Linked DNA regions of Homo sapiens. The protein of the gene in region 1 purifies or fractionates together with the protein of each later gene. This does not show direct contact. Each region holds a gene or a part of one and is shown on either strand. Other genes may lie near its edges.

Region 1 (3,500 bases):
AAACTGTCTATAATAGTACCTGCTCCTTCTTTGGCTCCTTTTTCCTACCCTGTTGTATTTTTCTCCATGGCACTCATCACTCCCTGACATAATATAGTTATTTGATTATCTATTTTCTGCCTGGTTCATTCCAACACACCAGCAGGGAGTTAGTTTTGTAAACTGCTGTATTCTCAGAGCATAGAATAATGCCTGGCTCACAGCACTACTCAACAAATATTTGAAGAATGAAAGCATGAAATAATTACACAAACATAAATATGTATTATAGCTGTGCTTGGTGCTATAAAAGAGAAGTATTGGCCTTTTCTTCTGGCTAATTGCTTTGGCCTGGTCAGAGAATTCAGGGAAGGCTTCATTGAAGACTTGAAATTTACAATGAATTGATCTTAGCCGGGCAAAGAGGAAGGGGAAGAATCCTCTGGGCCGAGGAACAGCCTGTGAGAGGGTCTTAATCTGGGGAGGATAGCACCTTGGAGGGACAGACAGATGGCCCGGGCAGGAACCTTGGGGAATGAGGGGCAAAGAGGAGGGTGATACAGCCACTGGAAAAGCTTTGGGCTTTATCTTGAGGGTAATGGGGAGAGGCGGAGGGTGACATGAGTTTATTGAGATGGTGTTTTTCAAAACAGCATCTGTTTGAAAACAGCAATCTGGTTTCTTTGCTTATTTAATAAACTTGTATACAGAGCTGACTTTGTGTCAAGCCCTGTTTGAAGTGATTCACTATTAACAACTCATTTTACCCTCATACGACACAGTGATGCTGGTACCATCATTAATCTCATTTTACAGACGAGAAAATTGGAGTGCAGAGAGATTAAGAAACTCGTCCAAGGCCGGGCTCAGTGGCTCACACCTGTAATCTCAGCACTTTGGGAGGCCAAAGTGGGTGGATCACTTGAGGTCAGGAGTTCGAGATCAGCCTGGCCAACATGGTGGGAGCCTGTCTCTACTAAAAATACAAAACTTAGCCTGGTGTGGTGGTGGGTACCTGTAATCCTAGCTACTCAGGAGGCTGAGGCAGAAGAATCGCTTGAACCTGGGAAGCAGAGGTTGCAGTGAGCCTACATTGCACCACTGCACTCCAGCCTGGGCAAGAGAGTAAGACTCCATATCAAAAAAAAAAAAAAGAAAAAAGAAAAAAGAAAAAAAAAAAGAAAGAAATATGTCCAACATTGCACAGCTAGTAAGTGGCGGAGACGTGATTCAGAACAGGTGACTGGCTCCACAGTCCATGCTTTTCCATTTCTGTTTGATACTGACTTTTGTGAGGTATAAATTTACAGGCAATACAATGCACACTAAGTGTACAGTTCAGTGAGATCTGATAAATGTATGTATCTGTGTGACAACCACCACAATCAAGATACAAAAAATGGGGGCTGGGTGCAATGGCATCCACCTGTAATCCCAGTACTTTGGGAAGCTCGAAGGGAGGATTGCTTGAAACCAGGAGTTTGAGACCAGCTTGGGCACTATAGTGAGACCCTATATCTACAAAAAAAATTTTTCCATCACTCCAAGAAGTTCCCTTGTGCCCTGTTGCAATAAACTTTTCCCATTGTACCCTAATAATGCCCCAGACCAATCCTAATTTGTTTCCTGTCACTGAAGATTATTCTAGGTAACCTAGATAACCTAGAATCTAGATATTCTAGATAACTTAGAGTTTCACAGAAATGGAATCATATGTTATGTGGTCTTTTTTGACTGGCTTCTTTTGCTCAGCATAAGCATAATGTTTCTGAGGTTCATCTGTGTTGTTGCCTATATCAGTAGTGTATTCCTTTTCCTATGCATATAATATGGGTTTTTTCCCTTTGGGTGCTTAAAAATTTATTATTTTATTTATTTAAAAAATTGACATATACGCCGGGCACGGTGGCTCACGCCAGCAATCCCAGCACTTTGGGAGGCTGAAGTGGGCTGATCACCAGAGGTCAGGAGTTCCAGACCAGCCTGACCAACATGGCGAAACCCCATCTCTACTAAAAATACAAAAATTAGCTGGGTGTGGTGGCGCATGCCTGTTATCCCAGCTACTCAGGAGGCTGAGGCAGGAGAATCGCTTGCACCTGGGAGGCGGAGGTTGCAGTGAGCCGAGATTGCGCCACTACACTCCAGCCTGGGTGACAGAGTGAGACTCCATCTCAAAAAAAAAAAAAAAAATTGACATATAATAATTGTACATATTTATGGGGTACATAAAGATGTTTTGATGTGTATAATGTATGGTGATCAGTCAGGGTAATTAGCATGTCTACCATCTCAAACATTTCTCATTTCTTTCTGTTCAGTATCTTCCTTCTAGCTATTTGAAACTATATATTATTGTTAACTATTGTCATCCTACAGTGGTACAGACTACTATAACTAAATTAAAAAACAATTGTGTGGCCAGGGATGGTGGCCCATGCCTGTATTCCTAGCACTTTGGGAGGCCGAGATGGGAGGATTGCTTGAGGCCAGGAGTTTGAGATCAGCCTGGGAAACATAGCAAGAACCCATTTCTACAAGAACTAAAAGAATTAGCTGGGCATGGTAGTGCATGCCTGTAGTCTCAGCTTCTCAGGAGGCTGAGACCAGAGGATCACTTGAACACAGGAGTTCAAGGCTGCAGTGAGCCATGATCATGCCACTGCACTGCAGGCTGGGTGACAGAGAAAGACTCTGTCTCTCAAGAAAATAAAAAAGAATTTGAAATAACTACAGATTCATAGGAAGTTGCAAAAGAAATATCCTGTGTACTCTTCACCCAGTTTCCCCCATTGGTTACATGTTATGTAACAATAGTACCATATAAAATTCAGGAAATCATGGTACAAATTCAGGGCTTATTCAGATTTCACTAGTTTTACATGCACTCCTTTGTGTGTATATTTTATATCGTTTTCTTCAATTTTGTGACATGTGTAGACTAATGTATCAGCTACCCTAATCAGGACCCAGAACTCTCCTGGTGATCACAAGCCTCTTTCATGCATCCCTTGACAGCCTTATCTCCCTCTCCCCATGGCAAATACCAATCTAGTCTGCATTTCTATAATTTTATTTCAAGAATGCTTTATAATTGGAATCATTAGTATATAACTTTCAGTGATTGGCTTTCTTCCCTCTGCATAATTCCCTTTAGGTGCATCAAAGTTGTTGCCTGTATCAATAGTTCATTCCTTTTCATTGCTGAGTAGTATTCAATGGCGTGGACATACCACACACAGTGAGTTTAACCATTCACCTACGGAATGACATTTAGATTGGTTCAATTTTTCAGCTACTATGAATAAAGATGCTATGAACATTTGTGTACAGGTTTTGTTTGTTTGTTTGTTTGTTTTTTGAGTTGGAGTCTCACACTGTCACCCAGGCTGGAATGCAGTGGCGTGATCTTGGCTCACTGCATCACTGCAAGCTCTGTCTCCTGGGTTCATGCCATTCTCCTGCCTCAGCCTCCCAAGTAGCTGGGACTACAGGCGCCCACCACCACGCCTAGCTAATTT
Region 2 (3,500 bases), on another chromosome or scaffold:
ATGTGTACACACATTTCTTAGCTTTTTTTTTTTTTTTTTTTTGAGATGGAGTCTCACTCTGTCGCCCAGGCTGGAGTGCAGTGGCGCAATCTCAGCTCACTGCAAGCTCCGCCTCCCGGGTTCATGCCGTTCTCCTGCCTCAGCCTCCCGAGCAGCTGGGACTACAGGCACCTGCCATCACGCCCGGCTAATTTTTTGTATTTTTAGTAGAGACGGGGTTTCACCGTGTTAGCCAGGATGGTCTCAATCTCCTGACCTCGTGATCCGCCCGCCTCGGCCTCCCAAAGCGCTGGGATTACAGGCGTGAGCCACCGCGCCCAGCCCATTTCTTAGCTTTTTAAAAGATTTGTTTTGTCTCTATTAGCAGTGTGCATAAAAGAGATACCATAGCAGGCTGAGACTGCTATCCTTAGAAAGGCCTGTTACAAGTTTGGCCCCTGGCTTGTGCTTGCAACCTTGGATTTTCGGTGTGTTCCCACCATTCCCTATCTGATAAGGGTCATGTACTATGCCTAAACTGTCTGTACAAACAATGTGGTTTATGCTGAAAACTTGCCTTTCTTCTGGAGGGCTGCAATTTGGCTAGGCCAATGTGCCTATGTAACTGGCTCCCATAAAAACCCTGCATTCCTAGGCTCAGATGAGTTTCTCTGGCAGAAAACGTTCATCGCTGGAGACATTAAGCACATCCTGTGCAAGCTCTATGGGGAGAGGCCTCTTGGAAGCTTGTACCTACTTTCCTCCAGACTTCACCCGACACACCTTTTCCCTTTGCTGATTTTGCTCTATATCCTTTCAATGCGATAAGTTGTAGCTGTGAGTATGACTATATGCTGAGTCCTATGAAACCTTCTAGTGAATTACCAAACTTGGGGGTGTCTTTGAGGATCCCTCAATACAAGCAGATTATAAACTCCTTGAGGTCAAGGATGATACCCAATAATAAAATGTCACATGTCTGGAAAGTATACCTTCACCCTGAATAGATGAGGAAACCAAAGCTTATAAACCCTGAGAACAGAGGACATGAGGCCCATCCAGTACTCTGGGCTCCACATCCTGACACGTCTCCCCACGGCACCAGCAGAATGCCCATAAAGCACATGATTGATCCAAGCCCCCAGAGCTGGCCCACCATGAATGAATGCAATTGAAACTTCATTGAGTAGAATAAATGTTCCTAAACAATAAAGGAGTTTCTAAAATTGGGTGGGGCGGGGGAGTTCATACACACATGGAGGCTGAGAAAATAGGCAATAAATACTAGGAATGTTACACACAGTAGTTGAAGGATTATTTTGGAAAGATAATCTTTCCAAATTGTAAAAGCAATTATATATTGTTCAGCGTCATTCTGGGTTGGATCATTTGGTTGTCATTTCTGTCCTTTATTAATCTAATTCATAATCCCAGGCTGCAGGTAATGCAGGCCAATTGCAGTGAAATCAGAAGTGTCTTTCCGTTGTATTGGCCTTAATATTTGCTGAGGCTCTGTCACGGTCCAATCTCTGCTGGGTCCCTTTTGCATGTATTAGTGACAAAGGCTATTCATTACTTAATAGCTAGTGGCATAGGCCTTGGAATCAGCCTGGGTTCAAGCTCTAGCTTTGCCGCTTAACAGCTGGTGTTTTTGTTGTTGTTGTTGTTGTTGTTGTTTGTTTTGTTTTGTTTTGTTTTTGAGACAGAGTCTCACTCTGTCCCCAAGCTGGAGTGCAGTGATGTGATCTTGGCTCACTGCAGCCTCTGCTTCCCGGGTTCATGCAATTCTCCTGCCTCAGCCTCCCGAGTAGCTGGGATTACAGGCATACACCACTGTGCCAGTTAATTTTTGTATTTTTAGTACAGACAGGGTTTTGCCACGTTTCCCAGGCTGGTTTCAAACTCCCAGCCTCAAGTGATCTTCCCACCTCGGCCTCCCAAAGTGCTAGAATTACAGGCGTGAGCCACCGTGCCCAGCCAACAGCTGGTGGTCTTAATATCACAGTACCTGTTTCCACGCAAATGCACATAAAAGCCCTCAGAATACTGCCTGGCTCATTTAGTGTTAGCTATTTTTTTAAAAATCTGGTTAAATCATTATTATAACCCAGTGAGTCAGTAGTAACGCCTTTATCTTTAACAATGAGGAAATATCTTATGTATATTTTCTTTCCTAAAAGGTATAAATGTTGATCTTGCTAATGAGAGCAAAAATCCTATTTGATAACCTTTCTCAGAACCCACATGTGTCAGTGTTTTAAAAAACAAGTTGGGCCTGATCCCTCATGCCTGTAGTCCCAGCTGCTCAGGAGGTTGAGGCTGGAGATTGTTTGAGCCCAGGAATCTGAGGTTGTAGTGAGCTGTGACCGCACCACTGCACTTCAACCTGGGTGACAGAGCAAGACTTTGACTCTAAAAAAAAAGGAAAACAGATTTTTTCCTTTTAAGAATTGTTCTAAACTCTGACAATTAAGTGGAAACTTTTCCATTCTTCATGTAATTTCATTGGTGGCTCACTGATCTTCATCTGGTTCAAAATACTATTTTAGGATAGGTGAGATATGGCTCAGCTATAAGCCATGTGAAAAAAATCTGGAAATTTTTAATATTACAGGCTGATCATGAGCCAACAACATAATAAGGATGTTTGGTAAAATAGTAACAATCTTATATCCTATTTTTTTAAAAAAACATAGTGTTCGGAGCATGAATAGTACTCCCAGTGCAGTTCCAGTATAATATCACTGCAAAGTTCACCCTTAGCAAAGTGATGCAGTCATGAAGGAGCTAGACACAGGAACCCATAAAGAATGGTGCAAGGATTTAAAGGTGTTATGCCTGGGAAACATACAATTAAGGGGGTCATAATCTCCAAATGTCTTAAAAACTACAATGCAAAAGAAAGACTGGACGTATTTTTGTTATTTTAAAAGGCAGAACTGATAACAATTTGTATTTACATAACAATAAATTTCACTTCAAGGTAAAGACTTTTGGACAAGTAGATCTGACCCAAAATAGAAAAAGTTGGCTAACGAGATAGTAATCTCTGTAGTGCTGGAGATATTTAAGCAGAAAGGAGATGAACTTCTGTAAAAGGACTTCACATAGGAAAAGTCTATGGCTGAATGACCTCTGTGGCTCTGCTGCTTAAACTGTGGGCACCTGGGGTGCAAAGGGAGGCACACAAAGACAAAGCCATGCCTATCTTCCAACAGCATCAATTTAACTGAAAGGTAAGTTAATAGAAACCTTTTAAATTAAAATAAACAGGGATATGTATAGTACTAAGAATAGCAAAATGTGCATAAATTTTTAAAAGATAAAACGTTAAGACTTTTAAGAAAGTTGAGGCCAGACGCAGTGGCTCACACCTGTAATCCCAGCACTTTGGGAGGCTGAGATGGGCTGATCATTTGAACTCAGGAGTTTGAGACCAGCCTGGGCAACATGGCAAAACCCCATCTCTACCAAAAATACAAAAATTAGCCAGGCATGGTGGCTCATGCCTCTAGTCCCAG

Evidence for each region. The genes of interacting proteins can lie anywhere in the genome.
Region 2: the proteins of OTOA (region 1) and HTATIP2 purify together in Homo sapiens (affinity purification with mass spectrometry; one large-scale study listed by BioGRID and IntAct). This does not show direct contact.

What each region holds. Positions count from the first base shown.
Region 1 is NC_000016.10:21,670,468-21,673,967, forward strand, and holds part of OTOA (otoancorin isoform 1 precursor), read left to right. Parts: intron 1-3,500. UniProt on the Homo sapiens protein: May act as an adhesion molecule.
Region 2 is NC_000011.10:20,377,214-20,380,713, reverse strand, and holds part of HTATIP2 (protein HTATIP2), read right to left. Parts: intron 1-3,500. UniProt on the Homo sapiens protein: Represses translation by preventing reactivation of elongation factor eEF1A. May also inhibit nuclear import by competing with nuclear import substrates for binding to a subset of nuclear transport receptors.